3 separate regions of the Homo sapiens genome follow, and all the other regions are linked to region 1. The links come from fine-mapping of genetic effects on gene expression. A gene starts in region 1. Each other region holds a variant in brackets. All regions are shown on one strand. Distances are between the middles of the regions.

Evidence for each region. PIP is the estimated chance that this variant, and not a neighbour inherited with it, causes the effect. A credible set is the group of variants that fine-mapping cannot tell apart.
Region 2: its variant is the best candidate, but not a certain one, in a credible set for the expression of TOP6BL in blood mononuclear cells (TOPMed, PIP 0.87).
Region 3: its variant is the best candidate, but not a certain one, in a credible set for the expression of TOP6BL in whole blood (INTERVAL, PIP 0.90).

Annotation. Positions count from the first base shown.
Region 1 is chr11:66,740,114-66,747,861 of GRCh38, forward strand. It overlaps TOP6BL (TOP6B like initiator of meiotic double strand breaks), which reads left to right and starts at 4,656. Exons shown (of 15, transcript NM_001302084.2): 1 at 4,656-4,806. It also overlaps a transcript of SPTBN2 not described here. RefSeq lists enhancers at 3,883-4,383, 4,875-4,984, 5,425-5,514 and silencers at 4,345-4,734, 5,145-5,244.
Region 2 is chr11:66,764,266-66,772,013 of GRCh38, forward strand. The region is part of intron 2 of TOP6BL (TOP6B like initiator of meiotic double strand breaks); the gene reads left to right. It also overlaps the pseudogene FTLP6. Among named protein-coding and RNA genes, the nearest start is that of TOP6BL, 23 kb to the left of the region's middle. The variant T/G (reference allele first, on the strand shown) is at 4,410.
Region 3 is chr11:66,819,709-66,827,456 of GRCh38, forward strand. TOP6BL (TOP6B like initiator of meiotic double strand breaks) reads left to right here. Exons shown (of 15, transcript NM_001302084.2): 10 at 1,935-2,056; 11 at 2,856-2,966. Among named protein-coding and RNA genes, the nearest start is that of RCE1, 20 kb to the right of the region's middle. The variant TTTA/T (reference allele first, on the strand shown) is at 4,712.

The DNA of each region.
Region 1 (7,748 bases):
AATAGGAAAGGAATGAAATCTCCTGGGCTGGCCCAGCACCTGCTACTGGTGGATGAGAAATCAGACTTTGTGCAAAGGGTGACTTGGCCAGGAAGAACAGGAAGTTAGTCAGTATCATAGTCAGTTATTCAAGGAGAGGAAGAAAACAGGGAATGGGGGTGAAGAACGAAATACTCGAGTTATATAAACTTTGGTACTGTCCCAGGAAAAGAATCTCTCTTTTCCCCTAAGTCTTAGAAAGGGGAAGAACAGATGCTGTAGTCCAAGAATTGCACAAAAGTCAGCACCATTATGGCCTCTAGTTGCCCCCATTAGCCCAATAATATTCCTCTGCTAGAACATCCCTGTCTGACCCCTGATAAGAAAGCAGAGGGAGGTGAGTGGTGAAGCTGCCCCAGATTCTGTGCTCCAGGTGGAGAAGGCCTCAAGAAGGTGAAGGGATGAGCTAATCTGAGCCTCATGGCCCCATTTCCAAGGATGTGATTAGTGGAGAGTCACCTGGGACCTGCTCCATTTCAGGAAACCCGGTTATGGGAACTGGTATGGGACAGACTTTGCTCAGGACCCGAGAGAAGCAGTTAACCCTTTCCTACTGTCTGGATGGGAAACAGCTTAATAGTTGCTTGGTTCTTTCCCAGGGGAGGGAGTCTTCAAATGGACTTCCTTTTGCATCAGCTTGGAAAGGCGGACCTCAAGGATATTTTCTACTTAAGTTCCTAGGGTCAGCCTCTTTAGGGCATTTGAAAGCTCTAGGGGAGCCTAAGAAACAAGGTGGGGCCTTAAGAAGTGTCTAGGAGACACAGAGAGGGCACATTCAAAAGGAAAGCTCAACAGTCCCTAAAATGTCATTGTTCATCTGGCAGCACTCCCTAGGATGTTCTGGTTCCACTCAAACCCTTGAGTTTGGGTCAGAATCAGTCTTGGGCTCTTCTTATAGGGGGGCAGGGAGTGTGTCTCAGACAGAGGGTTTCTTTTTGGAATAAACAAGATATCCAAAGTAGACATGTGATATGGTTTGGCTGTGTGACCATCCAAATCTCATCTTGAAGTGTAGTTCCCATAATCCCCATGTGTCATGGGAGGGACCAGGCGGAGATAATTCAATCATGGGGGCAGTTTCCCTCATCCTGTTCTTCTGATAGTGAATTAGTTCTCAAGAGATCTGATGGTTTTATAAGGGGCTTCCCCCTTCACTGGGCACTCATTCTTCCCCTTCCTGCTGCCATGTGAAGAAGTATCTGTTTACTTCCCCTTCTGCCATGATTCTAAGTTTCCTGAGGCCTCCCTAGCCATGATGAACAATGAGTCAATTAAAACTCTTTCCTTTATAAATTACCCAGTGTCGGGTATGTCTTCATGAGAATGAACTAATACAACATGAAACAGTAATATAAATTCTGAGGTGGGTGCAGAAATGGAAGCAGAATCAATATGTCACCCAGTCTAAGGACTGGAAATAACTGGCTCCCTACAGACACTGCCAATAAATGAGACCTGGAAGGCCAGGGCTGAAAATATCGAGAGCCATACTCAAAGCCTCCTTGGTTGGCCTAGTTAACTAAGGTGACCTTAACCAAGGGCAGGTCATTTAGTTTCTTTGGGCTTCAAATTTCTTCATCTTAATAGATAACTGATAATTTCCAAAGTCCCTTCTGGCTCTAACATTCTAGTGTTCTGAGGATGAGGTCTGAGCAAAAAACCGTTTTTAAAATTTTAATTTTTTTTTTGAGACAGGGTCTTGCTCTGTCACTAAGCTGGAGTGCAGTGGCATAATCATAGCTCACCGCAACCTCCAACTCGAGGGGCTCGAGATCCTCCCACCTCAACCTCCCAAGTAGTTAGGACTGTAGGCATGCATCACTGTACCTGGCTAATTTTTAAATTTTTTTGTAGAGACAGGCTGTCACTATAATGCCCAGGTTGGTCTCAAACTCCTGGCCTGAAACAATCCTCCTGCCTTGGCCTCCCAAAGTGCTGGAATTACAAGCATGAGCCACCATGCCTGATTTATTCATACAACTTCTTCTTGGATTCTCATTTTTATCATTTCTAAAACAAAGATAACATCTTTCTTACAAGATTACAAAATTGGGAGAACTGCTTAAGATGAATAAGAAAAAGTGAAGAGCACTTAGCACAGAGTGGATTCTCACCATATATCAAGCCTATATTGCATGCTGCCTGAATACGTGGGTTTACGCTACGGAAGTCCTGATGGCAAACCCTCATATCGAAGGCTTCCCTCCTTGCTTCTCCCTATGTCCAGTAGGGAGGACAGCTGTGTCCCTGGCTACCTTTGAGAGGCCTCCACTGCCTCTAGGGTGGTATTGGGTGCTCCATTACACCTTTATCCCTGAAGTTCATTCCAAGGACAAGGGCTGAAAGCTAGAGGCTCATTTCCAAGGACAAGGGCTGGAAGCTAGGAAACCAACTCATCTTCATTCTCAATGCCATTCTCAAGGTGGAGCATTTTCTGCTGGGCCAACACTCACAATGATAATTTTTTTTTTTTTTTAGACAGAGTCTCACTCTGTCAGCCGGGCTAGAGTGCAGTGGTGTGATGTCAGCTCACTGCAACCTCCACCTCCCGGGTTCAAGCAATTCTCCTGCCTCAGCCTCCCAGGTAGCTGGGACTACAGGCACATGCCAACACGCCTGGCTAATTTTTGTATTTTTAGTAGAGGTGGGGTTTCACCATGTTGGCTGGGCTGGTCTCGAACTCCTGACCTCAAATGATCCACCCACCTGGGCCTCCCAAAGTGTTGGGATTACAGGCGTGAGCCACTGCGCCCGGCCACGATGGGAAATATTTTAAAGAACCATCCTCAATACCTTGGTTTCTCACCCATAAAATAGTGACGATAACAATTTTCTTACAAGATAGTTGAGAGGATGACATCATTTATGTAAAGAGCTAGTGGGGTCCGACAACAAGCAGTCATTCAATGTTACTGGTCCCTTCCCCTTGGCAACTCCTCTTCTGAAAAAGGACAAGAGACTGGGGGTGGGGATGGGGAGCTCTGCGGGGGGTGTGGGGGGAATGAAAGGAAGACTCCAATGATTCCTCAAATGCCAGCTGTTTATCAAGTTTGATGGTTACGATGGATTTTCCAGAAATAAAAGCTACCTTGCTCCAATAGGTCTACCTGTGAGCAACTGAGATGGGGAGGAATGGGGAGGAGCGCTGAGCATAGACTCGAGAAGGGTATGATTCAGGTCTCGATAGACAATGTTCTTTGGAGTAGCACCAAGGTTGTGTACTGGGCAGGCACTCTGCCAGCTCGCCAGCCTGTTCTGTCCAATCCTGGCGTCTTGGAGCTGGGGTGGAAGAATTTTTCCTGAAGGAAAGCAGCCAACACCCTGTCCCACCCTTCTCCTTGGGCAACTCTTTGCCAGGCAGGAATCTCTCATCAGGGTTTTCTTTTGGCTGTCAGATCACCAGCAGTTATAGGCTTAAGCCCCTGTCACCATGCCCCTCCCGGAACCTGGCAGAGAGCAGCAGCTGGGACTCTGCAGGACCTCCTTATTCCAGCCAGGAATGCACTTGGAAAACCCCAGAGCTTCTCCTGTCAGCCAGAGCCCAGAAAAGCCAGCTCCTGGTCTTGGCACATTCAGTGCAGTCAAACGTGGAAAGGGGCCTGGATAGGGAGGGGTCGACTCCCAGGTCCCACCTTTGCGGGGGAAGCTGGTCCCCCTGGATTAGGCTGGGAGATGCTTGGGGCTGGTTGTAAGGTAAAAGACGGGGGGTCGTTTTTTCTTTTTTTGAGACAGAGTTTCGCTCTTTTTGCCCAGGTTGGAGTGCAATGACGCGATCTCGGCTCACTGCAACCTCCGCCTCCCAGGTTCAAGCAATTATCCTGCCTCAGCCTCCCGAGTAGCTGGGATTACAGGCGCCCGCCACCACGCCCGGCTAATTTTTGTATTTTCAGTAGAGACGGGGTTTCACCATGTTGGCCAGGCTGGTCTCGAACTCCTGACCTCAGGTGATCCACTCGCTTCGGCCTCCAAAAGTGCTGGGATGACGGGCGTGAGCCACTGCGCCCGGCCCAGGGCGTCGTTTTTAATTTCAGATTAGTAATTTTTTAGTATATGTCCCAAAAATTGCCGAGATATGTGTATGGTTATAAAAAAAATTCGCTGTCTATATGAAATTCAATTTTAATTGGCCGTCTTTTTCTTTGCTAAGTCTGGGACCCAGGGCTTGGCCTGGGGCAGCCCCCGCCGCAGACAAGGCTGTTGGAGGGGTCACGAACCCGCTTGGTAGCCCCGCGCCGTTACCGTCGCCCCTCCCGGCCGAGGGAAGGGTCCTGGAAAGCGCGAAGGGCGGCCAAAGCCCGGATTAGGGCCAAGGGCCGCATCTCGCCGCCACCGTGGGAAACTATCTTTGAGAGGAGGGAGGAGTCGTGGCCTGGCCTCATTCCCGCTCACCTCCAGCCTTGGCCGCCTCTCGCGGGCTCTTCCCCGCCCCGAACCTCCCACCTGCGGGCCCACTGGCACCCGCGGCGCTCAGAGGCTCTAGGTGGCTCCCGGCGGCGGTTCGCGGTCTCGGGGCCCTGCAGCGTCGAGTGCGCAGGCGCGGCGGGCAGGTGGGCGGGGCGTGCGCGGGCGCAGGCGCGCGCGCGGGAAGGGATGGGCTCGCGCTGCCGGGCGTGGGCGTGGACTCGGGCGTGGGCACTGGCGGAGTTCCAAGCCCGGGCTGAGGAGGGGGCGGCGGCGGCGGCGGCGGCGGCGGGCGGGTACCCTTCGACTGGGCGTTGCCGCTGTTCCCTGCGCGGCATGGAGGGGACGGCCGTGGCCGTGTTCGAGGTGATGCTGGGAAGGGAGAGAAAGCGGAGGACACTTTCTGAGGAGACGGGCTTTGTGAGGAGACCGCGAAGTTTGGGCAGAGGGGTCGGGCGTCGCCTAAGGTGAAGGAGGAAGGTTCGGGAATCGAGGCCCGTCTCCCACGGGGAAGCGAGGAAGTAGGAGCAGATGAGGGCTCTCGCTCGCGGGGTACTCTGTGGGGGAACGACGCCCTCTCTCCAGCCTACGGCTCAGAAAGCTGCGGCGTTTGCCGAGCACCGGCGGACACCCAGGGGCAGAGCCTGACGCAGCCTCGGAGGTGCCTGCCGGAGCCCAGCGCCTTCCATGCACCGGGTGCTGGGAGGGGGCGCGGAAAGAAGGAAAGGAATGGGGCAAGCCCTGGCGTTGCGGGGCGGGGTGGGGGGAGTCGGGGCGCCAGGACAGAGGCAAGGAGGGACCCAGTGCAGACTGGGAGCGAGGGAGAGTTTTTTTAGGCCCCGGTGCAGGTGCAGGTTTCTGGGTTCGAAGCAGCTGGACGTGGAAGGGCGAGGTTCAGAGGCCACACCTGTGCTCGGGGAGCTGCTCTGGAAGACGGCACTGAGCGCCTGGCGCCGGCCACGCCCCGTGTGCTCATTTCATTACCCACTTTCACGGCCGGTGCCCAATGGGACGTTGAGCTGCTGTTTGTGAGGGGTACTGGGCAGGTGACAGAAGCACAGGCTCTGAGGGCACCTGAGAGAGTACCCCCGGGCGTCCTGCCTGTTTGTTGTCATCAAAGAAGGCGGCGGGATTCCATTTTACAAATAACCGAACCTAGGCTAGAACCCAGGGCGCTGACTCATAGGCCAGTGTTCTTTTCCCAACTGCGCTGTCATACCGACATGAGAATATCTTTAGGGTTTGTTTGTTTGTTTGTTTGTTTGTTTGTTTTTTGAGACGGAGTCTCGCTCTTTCGCCCAGGCTGGAGTGCAGTGGCGTGATCCCGGCTCACCGCAGTCTCCGCCTCTCGGGTTCAAGGGATTCTCCTGTCTCAGCCTCCCGAGTAGCTGGGATTACAGGCGCACGCCGCTACACCTGGCTCATTTTTGTATTTGTAGTAGAGACAGGTTTTCACCATGTTGGCCAGGCTGGTCTTGAACTTCTGACCTCAAGTGATCTGCCCGCCTCCGCCTCCCAAAGTGCTGGGACCGGCGTGAGCCACCGTGCCCGGCCCGATATGGGAATATCGTAACAGAGGACGTGTGAAGGAATAGTTAGACTCTACACGTACCTGGAAACCATTCTTGTTAACTGGTACAAATGAGGATCTTAGTTCCCAGATCTCCCTGCCTTTAAAAAGGGGGTAATAATTTTCCTTGTGTTGCCTCCCTGTAAAAGTGAGAATCTGTTTGCATGAATAATAATGGGAGTTGGCCGGGCGCGGTGGGTAGCCTGTATTCTCAGCACTTTGGGAGACCGAGGCGGGCAGATCACTTGAGATCAGGAGTTCAAGACCAGCCTGGCTAACATGAGGAAACTCCGTCTCTGAAAAAAATACAAAAATTAGCGGTGGCTCACGCCTGTAATCCCAGCACTTTGGGAGGCCGAGGCAGGCGGATCACCTGAGGTCGGGAGTTCAAGACCAGCCTGATCAAAATGGAGAAACTCCGTCACTACTAAAAATACAAAATTAGCCAGGTGTGGTGGCACATGCCTGTAATCCTAGCTACTTGTGGGGCTGAGGCAGGAGAATCGCTTGAACCCAGGGGGCGGAGGTTGCAGTGAGCTGAGGTCGCACCATTGCACTCCAGCCTGGGCTACAAGAGCAAAACTCCATCTCAAAAAAAAAAAATTAGCAGGGTGTGGTGGCAGGCGGCTGCACTTCCAGCTACCTGGGAGGCTGAGGTGGGAGGATCACCTGAGCCCGGGAGGTTGAGGCTGCAGTGAACCATGATGATGCCATCACTGCACTCCAGCCTGGGAGTCAGAGTGAGACTCTGTCCCCTCTCTCCCCCCAAAAATAAATGAAATATATTTTATTTTCAATTTGTCTCGAATAAATGTGTTTTTTTTTTTCTTTTTGAAACGGAGTGTTGCTGTTGCCCAGGCTGGAGCGCAGTGACCCAATCTTGGCTCACTGTGGCCTCCACCTCCCGAGTTCAAGCAATTCTCCTGCCTCAGCCTCCTAAGTAGCTGGGGCTACAGGCACACACCACCACACCCGGCTAATTTTTGTATTTTTAGTAGAGATGGGGTTTCACCATATTGGCCAGGCTGATCTTGAACTCCTGACCTCAGGTGATCCACCGCCTCAACCTCCCGAAGTGCTGGGATTACAGGTGTGAGCTACCACACCCGGTCGATTAAATGTTTTACCCAGACATCTTGGAGTCCTGTTCAACTTAAAATATTGTGTGTAGTCTTTACTGCATTAGAACTTAGAAATAATAGCTAATATCTGTTAAGCATTTGCTATTTGCCAAGTACTGTGTTAAGCATTTTGCACATATTTTTATTTAATTTTTTTTTTTTTTTAGTAGAGATGGGGCCTCACTATGTTTCCAGGGCTCAAGCGATTCTCCCACCTTGGCCTCCCAAAGTGCTGGGATTACAGGCATGAGCCACTGCGCTCAGCGTTGCACGTACCTTATTTGTTTACTTTCAGCAGCAGCCCTATGTGGTAGTTTTATCCCCATTTTAATAGATGAGGAGTCTGTGGTTTGGAGAGATTAAGTAATTTGCCCAAGGTCACATGCTAGAATTTGGCACATCAGGGATTCAAATCCAGGTGTGGAGTGCAGTGGCCTGATCAGGGCTCACTTCAGCCTCAATCTTATGGGCTCAAGAGATCATCCTGCCTCAGCCTCCCCAGTGGCTGAGACTACAGGCACACGCCACCACGCTGGGCTAATTTTTGTTGTTGTTAGTAGAGATAAGGTCTGCGTATGTTGTCCAGGCTGATCTCAAACTGTTGAGCTCAAGTGATC
Region 2 (7,748 bases), 24 kb after region 1:
ATTTTTGAATTATTGTCTTTGGGTTGATGCAGAGAAGGGAAAGATCATTCCTAGTGGCCCTGCTCCTGTTAATGTCTGTGAAATTGCTTTGAAAGAAGTGAAAATCGGCCGGGCGCGGTGGCTCACACCTGTAATCCCAGCACTTTGGGAGGCCTAGGCGGGCGGATCACAAGGTCAGGAGTTTAAACCAGCCTGGTCAACATAGTGAAACCCTGTCTCTACTAAAAATACAAAAAAAAAAAAAAAAAAATTAGCTGGGGGTGGTAGTGGGCACCTGTAACCCCAGCTACTTGGGAGGCTGAGGCAGGAGAATCGCTTGAACCTGGGAGGCGGAGGTTGCAGTAAGCTGAGATCATGCCACTGCACTCCAGCTCGGGCGACAATGCGAGACTCCATCTCCAAAAAAAAAAAAAATAAAGAAGTGAAAATCTGGCCAAGCATGGTGGCTCTGACTAAAATCCCAGCACTGTGGGAGACTGAGGTAGGCAGATTGCTCGAGCCTTGGGCAGCATGATGAAACCCCATCTCTACAAAAAATACAAAAATCAGCCAGGCATGTGAAAATCAGCTAGGTGTGCCTGGGGTCCCAGCTACTAGGGGGCTGAGGCAGGAGATCCATTTGAGCCCAGGAGGTCAAGTCTGCAGTGAGCTGTGATTGCGCCACTGCACTACAGCCTTGGTGACAGAGTGAGATCTTGTCTCCAAAAAAAAAAAGCTATATAAATGGAGTATATTATTAGCACTAGGGAGGAGATAGGAGCATTCCTTGCAAAATAAACCCACACTTAATGTGCTTGTACAAGGAGTGGTCAGATCATATATAAGGCTACTTGTTTGACTAATATTTGTGAAAGTGCTTTGAAAAAAGTGAAAAGCCGTGTAACTACAAGAGAATAGTTTTATTATCATTGTTACTCTTAGGGAGTATCATTTATGGGTTATCATTTATGGAATAACCACATACTCATGCCAATACAAACTCTAGACAATTTTTGTCATGGTGACTTAGTTTTAATTTAACTGTTACTTTAAAAACTCAAAGCAATTTCATTTAATCCTTATTGTGATAAAGTGTGAGTGGCTAACTCTTCGTACAAAGAGGAAGTACTGCACATCAAGTACATAATTAAAATTGAATCATTTGCTCATGCTCAATCACATTTAGTAGCCAACTGTAGCCTAAGTCTTCTCTCCAGTTGTTAGGGCTCTTAATATTAACCTCCACTCAATAATGCTAGTTATTCTTTTTGTTTGTTTGTTTGTTTTTGAGATGGAGTCTCACTCTTGTCACCCAGGCTGGAGTGCAGTGGCGTGATCTTGGCTCACTGCAACCTCTGCCTCCTAGGTTCAAGAAATTCTCCTGCCTCAGCCTCCCAAGTAGCTGGGATTACAAGCGCCTGCCACCACGGCCAGCTAATTTTTATATTTTTAGTAGAGATGGGATTTCACCATGTTGGCCAGGCCTGTCTCGAACTCCTAACCTCAGGTGATCCACCCGCCTCGGCCTCCCAAAGTGCTGGGATTACAGGCGTAAGCCACTGTGCCTGGCCTAGTTATTCTTACTAATTAGTAACAAAAATTACTCAGTGAACCTCACAAAGGAAATTGGTGAAGAATAAGACAGGAATCCCTTAGCTCCCTGGTTTATGCACCATTAATTATGCCTTTTTTACTATTATTATTTAGAATTTCTGACACTATTAAGCTAATAGCAAACTGCTTTAAATTGGTCCATTTACTGATCTTTACACTGTTTAGTTAGCTTCATCAGGGAGTCTCTGGCAGCTGGATTCATTACTCATCAGTTTTCTAGATGCTAAAAAATTGTGTATCTATACAAAGTTAATATGTCTGTAAATTCAGTTTAACTCTGTTGTTTTCTTCATTATTTGGCTGATTTCTCTCAGTGTCTAAAACAAGTGGTCTGACCCTTCTTTAGGGGAGCTGAACTGTTGAAGAACTATCAGCTTTAGTTTCCTTTACTCTTCAATCTGTTCTACCAGGGTTGTATCAAGGTACTTTTTTCTCTGGATCTGGAATACTTTAGATCAATTCCTGTACCAAATAGGCTCATATTTCTGTGTATTTTATTTATGCTGGATTAATAAGCAATGACCATTGTAATCTCCCTACTCACCTACTTCTCTACTGGTTTATTTTCTCTTTTTTCCCCTTTCTTCTCTGGTCCCTAACTATTTATACTTTTATTCAGTAAACTTTTATTGTAACATCTACCTTGCCACAAAGAAGTCACAGGAAGTAGAGGCAGCTCTGCAAATAAAATGCAGTGTGATTAGTACTGTAATGGAGGTGTAAGTTGAAAGAGCTTCTCTCATAACCCAGAGGATATTCCCCAAAGTTCAGTCACCAATGTGCTTTTCTTCCCTTCATTATTCTGCATCATTATTCTACATTCAATTCAGACAGCTTTTCTACTTTCAAGACTTTAACTAACATTAACTATGCTGATGAGACTTATTTTTCCCCCTCTTGATCACTGACATGTCTCCTAAACTCCAATGGAATAGCTTTGAATGTCAATTAGACTATTCCATTTGAGAGTTCCTCTGAAATATCCTGTGTAACATGTCTAACATGGGGTTCAGTTTCTTGAAATGAACTTATTGTGTAATGTCTGCATTCCTTTCAGTGATATTGACATACTCATAATTCTCCAGCGTTAAAAATCTTGGTTTTTATGGTGGGGTTTCTCCTTTTTTGTTTCCTCATTATGTAATTGATTTTTCGTTAATTCTGCCTTTATAATATAAAATTCTTATTAATTTAAACATAGCTTACATTCTTCCCTTAATGATTCCTTATTTATTATTATATTAGGTCTAAGTACTTCAGACCAGAGTTAAGGCCTTCTCTCAAGAGGATAATCCCCTCTACTTTGCAGAATAATGCCCATTAAGATAGATAAGTTCTTATGTGTTTAAAAAATTGTCACTACATGTTAAATGTGTGCTACTGTCTGCATTGAATACTTATCTACTTAGGTATAATTCCATTTATATATTCATTTATGTGTATACTTATCCATTTATATAGAACTATTTCTATCATAAATGTCTTTTAGTGAAACATGATTGTTTCAGTTTGTCCTATTTGCTCAGCTCTGCTTCCTATTATGTCCTTATTCAAGTGAGGAAAGGAAAGTGGATGGAGGAATATGAAAAAAATCCATGTTTATAGATCTTTATTTTGCTGCTTTTTCCTCTTTCTTCTATTCATATTATTTTTATTTTTGTCTTTTTAAAATAGCTTCTCATTTCCATGTTTATTGACATAACTTAGCTCTTTATACAGTATGGCCAGTTATTTTAAAAAGATGTGCAAGTGTTTTTCCCAAATAAAATTTACAGCCTTCTTTTTTCTTCATAAGACTAGATAAGAATACCAGTCCTTGTAAACAGGGAGGACTGCTTTGCTGTTGATATATGGTTACATGGCTATGATAGTTCAGTTTTTGCCTCTTCCCTATATGCTACCCTTTTGGTGTCAGGGAGACTTTTTTGTTGTTCATTGTTTTGTTTTTTGGAGGCAGGGTCTTGCTCTGTTTCCCAGGCTGAAGTGCAGTGGCATGACCACAGCTCATTGCAGCCTTGACCTCTTGGGCTCAAGGGATCCTCCCATTTATAGCCTTCTGAGTAACTGGGACCACAGGTGTGTACCACCATGCCCAGCTAGTTATTTTATTTTTTGTAGAGATGAGATCTCACCATGTTGCCCAAGCTGGTTTTAAACTCCTGGGCTCAAGCGATCCTCCCACCTTGGCCTCTCAAAGTGTAAGGATTACAAGTGTGAGCCTTCATGCCCAGCCTGTTTATTTTCAAGTTTACTTTTGTCCTCTTTGTTAATTTGTTGGGAAAGAAAGTGAGGAGTGGTGCTTTTCATGGGTTAGAGAGATTGACAGGTCCAGACTTGCTCAACATTGAGTAAGAAACTCACAATGGTGAACTCTTGAATGTCTGACGTAATCAAGTTTTTTTTTTTTAAGTCTGAGATTCTTGTATTCAAGAATAAAAATCTATTATAATTTTATATCTTACAAAATCAACAACTCTAAGGCTCAGAATTTATCTAACGCTTTTTCCCCCGGGAGCTCATTTTGTAGACATGATCTCATTCATTCTTGAGGAGCAGTCAGACATAAGTGTTATCATCATCTCTGTTTCAGAGATGAGAAAACTGAGACTTAGCCTCATATACTAAGAAGGGAAACATTTGTAGACTCATAGGTTGCTGGTTATCCATTAAACTGTGAGAGACTACACTTAATTTTAAGCTTTTGATACATTCTAAACAGGCTGTTGTTGCCAAATTTACCTAACGCTTGGTAAGATTTTATAAAGGTTGGCTGAAGATCAAGACACGCTAAAACAGATTTTTGTTTTTTGTTTTTT[T/G]TTTTTTTTGCTTCCTTAATATTTCTTTACTCTTTTCCTTGTTACATTTATCTAATTGCACTTCACTATTGAGAACATGTTCAAGATTTGATGTGACAGAAGGGGATGGAAAGGACAGAAGTGGTTTTTACCAACCCTGACATATTCCTTTTCCTTTTGAACTTGGATAGATAAAACAGGAGGAAAAGGATAGCTCTTATTATTAGAGATCCTGGGAGCTGGCTCATTCTCTGGCTGAGTGGTACATAACTGCTTTTATTCAGCAGCCCATGAGAGCTAACCTGCCTTGTACCTGGCTGGCTTAAAATGCTTGAACTGTTACAATTCCTCATTGAGTAATCAGCTGGGCACTTACTGTTCCAACTCTGTCCTTCTGGGTTACCACACATCTTTCATCTTCTCAGCTGGGAACACAAGGAGAGTTGTCTCCCTATAGTGGTATAGTGGAATTTGGCTGGAATGGGAAGAGGGGATACTGTATTTTTTCTTGAGTAGACTTTATGGCTAGCCATTTAATACATTCTGAAAAATGGTCAGATGACATCACATAGAAAAATTACCTCAAAATGGATCAAAGAACTAAAGCTATAAAACTCTTAGAAAAGAAAGAAAGGTTTAAATCTTCATGACCTTGGATTAGGCAATGTTTTCTTGGATATGACATTTAAAGCACAAGCAACGAAAGGAAAAGTAGAGAAATTGGATTTAATCAATATTAAAAACTCTTATGCTTCAAAAGATGATACTAAGAAAGTGAAAAGATCAATTATACCTAAAAAAAAAAAAGCTGGAAAATGAAGGTCTCTAGTTCCAAAACTCAGAAAAAAAAGGTGAATAAATAATCCACAGATAAGAAAAGTCTAGTATCCAGTGTACATATAGAACTTATACAACAACAATTAAAGGACAAATAGCAAAATTCATATGGTAAAGCCCCAACCCCCAGTGTGATAGTATTTGGAGATGGGGCCTTTGGGAGGTAAGTGGGGTTAGATTAGATCATGAGGGTTGGGCCTTCATGAGATTAGCAGTTTTATTTATTTATTTATTTATTTATTTACTTATTTTTTAATTTTTATTTTTTGAGACAGAGTCTCACTCTGTCGCCCAGGCTGGAGTGCAGTGGTGCAATCTTGGCTCACTGCAAGCTCCACCTCCCGGGTTCATGCCATTCTCCTGCCTCAGCCTCCCGAGTAGCTGGGACTACAGGCGCCCACCACCACGCCCGGCTAATTTTTTTTTTTGTATTTTTAGTAGAAATGGGGTTTCACTGTGTTAGCCAGGATGGTCTCAAACTCCTGACCTTGTGATCCGCCTGCCTCGGCCTCCCAAAGTGCTGGGATTACAGGCGTGAGCCACCACGGCTGGCCTGAGATTAGCAGTTTTATAAGAAGAGGAAGGGAGAGAGAGATTATTCTCTTTTTCCCTCTCCCTCCCTTGTATCCACCAAGGAAAGGCCATGTGAGGGCACAATGAGAAGGCAGCTATCTGAAAGCCAGGAAGAGAGCCCTCATCAGGAACCAAATCAACTGGCACCTTGATCTTGGCCTTCCCAGCCTTCAGAATTGTGAGAAATAAATTTCTCTTGTTTAAGCTACCTAGTTTATGGTCTCTTGTTATGGCGGCTTGAGTGGACTAAGACAACATTTATCCTAAAAAGATACACACATGGCCAGTAAACCCATGAAAAGATAGATGCTCAGCATCATTAGTCATTAGGGAAAAATGCAAGTCAAAAACATAATGAGGCCAGGCACGGTGGCTCATGCCTGTAATACCAGCGCTTTGGGAGGCTGAGGTGGGAGGATCACCTGAGGTCAGGAGTTGGAGACAAGCCTGGCCAACATAGTGAACCCTCATCTCTACTAAAAATACAAAAATTAGCTAGGCGTGGTGGCCGGTGCCTGTAATCCCAGCTACTTGGGAGGCTGACCCAGGAGAATGGCTTGAACTCAGAAGGTGGAGGTTACAGTGAGCTGAGATCACACCACTGCACTCCAGCCTGGGTGACAGAGCCAGACTCTATCTCAAAACAAATGCTCCACACACCAGTGGTAATATGAAATTGAAGTTTTTTAAACTCCATCTTCCCCTTTACTTCCCTCTTCTCTTTCCTGACACCCCTTCTGGCCTCCTTACCCATCGTTGGCCACTTAGCATAGTATAATCCCCTGCTGCCTTGACTTTCTACTTTTTCTTTCTTATCAGTCTCCAGGCTTGGGTAATCACCATTATTATTATTTTTTCATTCTTATTTCCAAGCTGCCAAGTGTTACTTGTGTAAATCATAAAACTGAATGTTGGGTACGCTATAAATTTAAGGAGAATTTCTAACTTCTTGGGGTTGTTCAGTACTCTTATCTTGTTTATTCTTTTATATAATTCTCATAGTGTATATTTCAAATTACCTGACACTCAATAAATGTCTTTACCTTCTATTTTTCTGAAAAGGTTGAGGTTATCCAAATGGCACTTCTTCTGGATTTCTTTTTTTCTTTTTTTTTTTTTAGAGATGAGGTCTTGCTATGTTGCCCAAGCTGGTCTTGAACTCTTAGGCTCAAGCAATCCTCCCACCTCGGCCTCCCAAAGTGCTGGGATTACAGGCATGAGCCACCATCCTCAGCCATTCCAATTTCTTTTTAAGAAATTTAAATTTGAGGCTGGGCGTGGTGGCTCACGCCTGTAATCCCAGCACTTTGGAAGGCCAAGGTGGGCGGATCATGAGGTCAGGAGATTGAGACCATCCTGGCTAACATGGTGAAACCCCGTCTCTACTGCAATAGAATGTGGCTGCCATGCTGGCTTTGCAACTTCAAGAGATCCTCTGCACCCTTACACTTCTCAGCCAATTTGTGGAAGAAGTGGCCAGTGCCTTCCAGTGCCACATCATTGTGGTCAAAATAGAAGCCCAGAATGAGAGAGATGTAGGAGGCCTACAGATACAAATTGACCAGGCGATTGACAGCTGCCTCCAACTCGATGAAATAATTCTGATGAGTCTAGTTGGCAAGAAGGAGCTAACCACAAAAACAGTGTTGGCTGGTCTCAGAAGCAGGAGATGGCCGAGAAGATGGTCCTGGAGGTTGCAAGTGGAGAGGACAGTGGAGGGCAGTTGGAGGCTGGAAGAGAGGGAGTCCCTGGGTTTGTTCCATCCAAATACTATTGAAGCAAGAGACAGATGGGTGGGACTGTCAAATGCACTGCCAGAACATCCATGAACAGCTCATGGTTCAAGAAGTAATTTCAACTTTTAAGGCTTATTATTTAGGAAATACATTTTATAAGACTATAGCTGCCATAGATAGTGAGTAGAGTCAATTAAAAACCTTCTGGAAAGGA
Region 3 (7,748 bases), 80 kb after region 1:
TCTGGCCAACATGGCGAAACCCCGTCTCTACTAAAAATACAAAAATTAGCTGGGTGTGGTGGCAGGCGCCTGTAATCCCAGCTACTCGGGAGGCTGAGGCAAGATAATCACTTGAATCCAGGAGGCGGAGGTTGCAGTGAGCCGAGATCACGCCATTGCACTCCAGCTCGGGCAACAAGAGCAAAACTCTTGTCTTAAAAAAAAAAAAAAAAAAAAAATTGGCCAGGCATGGTGGTGGTGTACACCTGTGGTCCCAGCTATTCGGGAGGCTGAGGTGGGAGGATCACTTGAGCCCCGGTGGTCGAGGCTGCAGTGAGCCAAGATCGTGTCACTGCACTCCAGGCTGGGCAACAAAACCCACAAAACACTTTGTGTACATTATCGCAGTTTATCTACACAACATACCTGTGAGAGCAGGTGGTATAAAGCCATTTTCTATACTGAAGAAAAGATTTCATCACCACTAGTTGATGGCAGAATTGGCCCTAGAATCTATGTTCTCCCTGACTCCAGCTCCAGAATCCTTTTGAGCTTACCATATATTACGTTCCCTACCAGGAAAGGATCATGGTGCCTTGTGGTAGAAAATGTTCTTCTGGTTTGCATTTTTAATACAGTCCTGGAAAAAGCCAGCCAGTTTTAGGCTGCTTCCCATAGAATTCTGAACACTGAAAACAAAGAATAATCAAGAAGGATTTTCTCCAGGTGACCTGTAAATTTGGCTTCCTGTGCCTGCTGCATCGGGATCATTAAATGGTGGCCTATTGTTTGATGGCATAGTTTTTTTGCCTGTTGCTCTCACATATTAGCTTTTCTGAATGAGACTGAGCAGTGGTGCCTGTGGTTACTTTAACAGAGATAATCTCCCATTTAAAAGGACCTCATACCAACAGTTCTGTGTCATCTCTGTGAATTTTAACCTTTTCTTTACCACAGTACGTCTGAAAGCACTGCCACAACAGTGATGTTCACATAGACGTAGAGTAGGGTTAGACACACTCTATAGGACCTTTGCTTCTCCCTTTCTCCTCTCCTTTGGGAGTCACTGGGATTGTTGTTTATAGTACATGGTATATATTTCTGCTATGAATTAAACAGGATCCCTTATTTGTTTCTTTAAAAAATAATGTCATTCTCCACCTTAATTTTCCTGAGCTTTCTTAGATTTATGAGTGGGAATTAGGTAGGTGTGTAAGTTGCTGGGAGATTTTGTCTAAAAAAAGGTAATTATTTGTGGATATGTAGGGGTCTCTTCTTCCAAGAGGCATCTTTCCCACTCCCAGTCCTGACTCAAAGCACATGAACAGCAATCTTGAAGTAGTTATCCTCGCTCATGGTTAATCCTTGGATAATGCAAGCCTGATACCATGTTCTGAGCCCTACTGAACATTTCTAAAGAACTCGGATTCCTCAGAAACCAGTGTTATCATTCCTGAACTACTGTGATAATTTGTACACCTCTGTTTAGCTTGATTCTGAGGGCCTGCAGTATCTCAGTCGTTGTACTCAGTATTGGATTTAAAAGAAATTCATCAGTGTATTAGTAAACAAGTGTCTTAAATCTTACACATCTGGTAATTTTTTTTTTTTTTTTTTTGAGACGGAGTCTCACTCTGTCACCCAGGCTGGAGCGCAGTGGCACAATCTTGGCTCACTGCAAGCTCCGCCTCCCGGGTTCACGCCATTCTCCTGCCTCAGCCTCCCGAGTAGCTGGGACTACAGGTGCCCGCCACCGTGCTTGGCTAATTTTTTGTATTTTTAGTGGAGACGGGGTTTCACCGTGGTCTCGATCTCCTGACCTCGTGATCCGCCCGCCTCGGCCTCCCAAAGTGCTGGGATTACAGGCCACATCTGGTAATTTAAGACTAGCTTTTGCAGATGCACAGTGAGGGGAGGTAGATATAGTGATAATTTTACCTTCTCCCTCCCCTTAGGAGTCTATACTTTGCTCACAACTCATCTCAATGCCATCCTTGTGGAGAGCCACAGTGTAGTGCAAGGTTCCATCCAATTCACTGTGGACAAGGTCTTGGAGCAACATCACCAGGCTGCCAAGGTAATAAGGAATTCACAGCCTCTTTTCTCCTATTCTCTAAGAAAAAGATAGCAAGCATATATGGCAGGCAGGGCCCAGGAGCCCTTCCTCCCTTAATGCCCCTTCCTCTCCTCTTCTGTCACCTGGGTGATCTTGTAACACTGCATCTAGCCTACAACTCAAACTTTAGCTTAGATGGATCACTGTAACCAGCTTGCTTAGTCTTACCTCCTAGTAGGTGTGTTTGGGTAAATAGGGAAATAGTTAATAGGGAAAAATGGCTGATAACACACCTCTTCCTTATGCATATAATTCCCCTTCCCACACAGACTTCTGGAGCTGCTGTTTCGCTGTGTCTTACATTCTTCCCCCATTTTCCTAATTCTTTACACCACCACTTTCTCTCCTTACCTGATTTTCTACATCCATCCATCCTGTGTACTTTTGGTAACACATTTCTTACCTCATATGGCCCCCTTTTCAGGGAAAAAACAACCACACTAAGAGAGCAGAACTAAAAGCTTTTTTTTTTTTTCCCAAATAGTGTGTCTGTTTTCTTGATCATTGTCCTATTGCTTGTCTTCTCTGATGTGTCTGTGTCAGTAAGTCACCTCTGTGAAATGCAAGAACATTTTAAAATTTTATTTTAATTCCCTAAGTGTTATGATGTAAAAATATGTGAGGATCTCAGTAACTTTTGTTGATGGATAGGAAGAATTGTTGAAATCCTGCTCTGATGGAAATGTGTGGGCCCTCTGGGATTCTCTAAACCACATCTTGGGATTCATGCAGTCTCCCCCTTACTTGTTATGTTCCCCAGGCTCAGCAGAAACTACAGGCCTCACTCTCAGTGGCTGTGAACTCCATCATGAGTATTCTGACTGGAAGCACTAGGAGCAGCTTCCGAAAGATGTGTCTCCAGACCCTTCAAGTTAGTAGGAGATTGGGATTGGGGATGCTTAAAAGTGCCAGGGTTTTGGCTGGGTACGGTGGCTCATGCCTATAATCGCAGCACTTTGGGAGGCCAAGGTAGGAGGATTGCTTGAGCCCAGGAATTTGACACCAGCCTGGGCAACACAGGGAGACCCTGTCTCTACAAGTAATTAAAAAATCACCCAGGTGGAGTGGTGCACACCTGTGGTTCCAGCTCCTCAGGAGGCTGAGGTAGGAGGATCAACTGAGCCCGGGATGTTGAGGCTGAGCCGTGATCATGCCACTGTACTCCAGCCTGGGCAACAGACTGAGACCTGTCTTAAAAAAAAAAAAAAATGCCCAGGGCAGTGGCTCATGCCTGTAATCCCAGCACTTTGGGAGGCCAAGGCGGGTGGATGACCTGAGGTCGGGAGTTTGAGACCAGCCTGACCAACATGGTGAAATCCTGTCTCTACTAAAAATACAAAATTAGCCAGTCGTGGTGGCAGTTGCATGTAATCTCAGCTACTCAGAAGGCTGAGGCAGGAGAATTGCTGGAACCCAGGTTGGGGAGGTTGCAGTGAGCCGAGATCGCCCCATTGTACTCCAGCCCAGGTGACAACAGCGAGACTCCACCTCAAAAAAAAAAAAAAAAAAAAAGCCAGGATTTTAATGACATTCTACTGCTTATCTTTGTAAAATGTACAGTATTTTTAGAAACATTACTTTATTTGCTCCACTGTGATGCTACATAGTACCAGGCTTAAGTTTTAAGAAATATTTGTTGGAATAGTAGTATGTATACCATTTTACAAATGAGAAAACAAATTATTTAAGATTTCTGCTTTCTTTAGGTCACACAGCTAGTTAAGAACAGAGCTAGGGCTGGGTGTGGTGGCTCATGCCTGTAATCCCAGCACTTTGGGAGGCTGAGGCGGTGGATTGCTTGAGGTCAGGAGTTCATGACCAGCCTGACCAACATGGTGAAACCCCGTCTCTACTAAAAATACAAAAATCAGCCAGGCGTGGTGGTGCACGCCTGTAGTCCCAGCTACTCAGGAGGCTGAGGCAGAATTGCTGAAACCCGGGAGGTGGAGGTTGCAGTGAGCCAAGATCACCCCACTGCACTCCAGCCTGGGTGACAAAGTGAGATTCCGTCTCAAAAAAGAATAAGAAAAAAAGAACAGAGCTAGGACTAGATCAGTGATTCCTAATCTAATTCCTTGTTGAAAAATGCTATCTCATGGTGACAGAATACACTGGAAATAACTGAGCAACCTTACCTATTACGTGTATGTGGCAGTACGGAATCAGAGGCTCAGGTTCAAATCCTGACTCATTTACTTATTAGTTATGTTTAGGCCTATAGTTCTGAGACTTGTCTACAAATTGGAAAAAGTAATAGTACCTCACAGAGTTATTATGAAGGTGAGAGCTAAATGTGTGCTATGGTCTGAATGTTTATATATCCCCAAAATTCATATGTTGAAATCCTAACCCCCGAACTGATAATATTAGGAGGTATGAGGCCTTTGAGAGGTGATTTAGGTCATTAGGCCTTCATGAATGGGATTAGTGCCTTTATTTTTATTTTATTATTATTTTTTGAGTCGGAGTTTCGCTCTTGTTGCCCAGGCTGGAGTGCAATGGCATGATCTTGGCTCACCGCAACCTCCGCCTCCTGGGTTCAAGCAATTCTCCTGCCTCAGCCTCCCAAGTAGCTGGGATTACAGGCATGCACCACCATGCCTGGCTAATTTTGTA[TTTA/T]TTATTATTATTATTATTATTATTATTATTATTATTATTATACTTTAAGTTTTAGGGTACATGTACACAACATGCAGGTTAGTTACATATGTATACATGTGCCATGTTGGTGTGCTGCACCCAGTAACTCGTCATTTAACATTAGGTATACCTCCTAATGCTATCCTTCCCCCCTCCCCCCACCCCACAACAGGCCCTGGTGTGTGATGTTCCCCTTCCTGTGTCCATGTGTTCTCATTGTTCAATTCGCACTTATGAGTGAGAACATGTGGTGTTTGGTTTTTTGTCCTTGCGATAGTTTGCTAAGAATGATGGTTTCCAGTTTCATGCATGTCCCTACAAAGGACATGAACTCATCATTTTTTATGGCTGCATAGTATTCCATGGTGTATATGTGCCACATTTTCTTAATCCAGTCTATCATTGTTGGATATTTGGGTTGGTTCCAAGTCTTTGCTATTGTGAATAGTGCCGCAATAAACATATGTGTGCATGTGTCTTTATAGCAGCATGATTTATAATCCTTTGGGTATATACCCAGTAACGGGATTGCTGGGTCAAATGGTATTTGTAGTTCTAGATCCCTGAGGAATCGCCACACTGACTTAATTTCGTATTTTCAGTAGAGACGGGGTTTCTCCATGTTGGTCAGGCTGGTCTCAAACTCCCGACCTCAGGTGATCCACCCGCCTTGGCCTCCCAAAGTGCTGGGATTACAGGCCCGAGCTACTGTGCCCAGCCGGATTAGTGCCTTTATAAAAAAGGCCCCAGGCCGGGCGTGGTGGCTCATGCCTGTAAGTAATGTCAACACTTTGGGAGGCCAAGGTGGGTGGATCACCTGAGGTCAGGAGTTCCAGATCAGCCTGACCAACATGGTGAAACTCTGTCACTACTAAAAAAAAAAAAAATACAAAAAAAATTAGCCAGGCGTGGTGGCAGGCGCCTGTAATCCCAGCTACTTGAGAGGCTGAGGCAGGAGAATCACTTGAACCTGGGAGGTGAAGGTTGTAGTGAGCTGAGTTCGCACCATTACCCTCTAGCCTGGGTGACAAGTGCGAAACTCTGTCCCAACCAAAAAAAAAAAGGCCCCAGAGAGACCCTTGCCCCTTCTGCCATGTGAGGACACAGGGAGGAAGTGGGCAGCCTACAGCCCAGAGGAGGGCCCTCACCAGAACCTGACCATGCTGGCACTTTAATTTCAGATTCCCTGCCTCCAGCACTGTGAGAAATCAGTTTCTATTGTTTATAAGCCACCCAGTCTATAGGAATTTGGTATAGCAGCCCGAATGGACTAAGACAGTGTCAAAGTGCATAGCATACGGTAGATTCTCAATAAATGTTAGTGTTTCCCTTCCTTTAGGAATGTGTGCTGACCAACTGGTATTATCAATGGGCAACTTATCATTCCATATTTGTTGCTTTTTTTTTTTTTTCTCTGAGACAGTGTCTCGCTCTGTCGCCCAGGCTGGAGTGCAGTGGCGCGATCTCAGCTCACTGCAAGCTCCGCCTCTCAGGTTCACGCCATTCTCCTGCCTCAGCCTCCCAAGTAGCTGGGACTACAGGCGCCCGCCACCACGCCCAGCTAATTTTTTTTGTATTTTTAGTAGAGACGGGGTTTCATCGTGTTAGCTAGGATGGTCTCAATCTCCTGACCTCGGGATCCGCCCGCCTTGGCCTCCCAAAGTACTGGGATTACAGGCATGAGCCACCACGCCCTGGCCTGCTTCATTTTTTTGGTATAGTTTTCTTGAAAAGCTAGTATAACACAAAAAAATTTTAAAATAATAACTAATAAAATTTATCACTATAATTTTTACTCATTATCTCATATATATTTGTAACCAAAGCATTCTATTTTCATATATAATTTGCCATTTTCCCCATTTCAACAGTCTTAGAATTTTTAGTTAATATCCCACTGTATTGTTTAAATCTAATTTAATAAACCATTCCTCTGTTAGACATTTGTTTACATTCTTGCTTATATAGTGGTTCAGTTAATACCTTTATGTAATATCTTGCTTCTTTTGAATTATTTTCTAGAACAAATTTCTATAAATGGAGTTATGAGTCAAAGTGTATAACACATTTATAAGCTAGTGCATTTTATCATAGCTTCAACTTTCTGGGTCATGTGGATAGCACAGGGTAGTGAAAAGAACACTATATTGGGAATTCTAAGGTATCCATTAAAGCCCTAACTTTTGTACTAACTAGCTGTGAGATCTTGGGTGGGTCACTTCTTTTTTTTTTATTTTTTATTTATTTATTTTTTTTGAGACAGAGTTTCGCTCTTGTTGCCCAGGCTGGAGTGCAGTGGTGCAATCTCGGCTCACTGCAACCTCCGCCTCCCAGGTTCAAGCAATTCTCCTGCCTCAGCCTCCCCAGTAGCTGGGATTACAGGCATGTGCCACCACCCCTGGCTAATTTTGTATTTTTTAGTAGAGACAGGGTTTCTCCATGTTGGTCAGGCTGGTCTCAAACTCCCGACCTCAGGTGATCCGCCTGCCTCGGCCTCCCAAAGTGCTGGGATTACAGGCATGAGCCACCACACCTGGCTTTTTTTTTTTTTTTTTGAGACGGAGTTTCGCTCTTGTTGCCCAGGCTGGAGTGCAATGGCGCGATCTCGGCTCACCACAACCTCTGCCTCCCAGGTTCAAGCGATTCTCCTGCCTCAGCCTCCCGAGTATCTAGGATTACAGGCATGTGCCACCACGCCTGACTAATTTTTGACTCTCCTGCCTCACCCTCCCAAGTAGCTGGGATTACAGGCATGCGCCACCACGCCCAGCTAATTTTGTATTTTCAGTAGAGACAGGGTTTCTCCATGTTGGTCAGGCTGGTGTCAAACTCCCGACCTCAGGTGATCCACCTGCCTTGGCCTCCCAAAGTGCTGGGATTACAGGCGTGAGCCACCGCGCCCAGCCCACTTCTCCTTTTTGAATTTCAATTTTCTCATCCATAAAATTAGTGTGATGTATTAGGTTATTACCCTGGTCCCCTTTAATTCTAACATCCTATAATTATATATTTA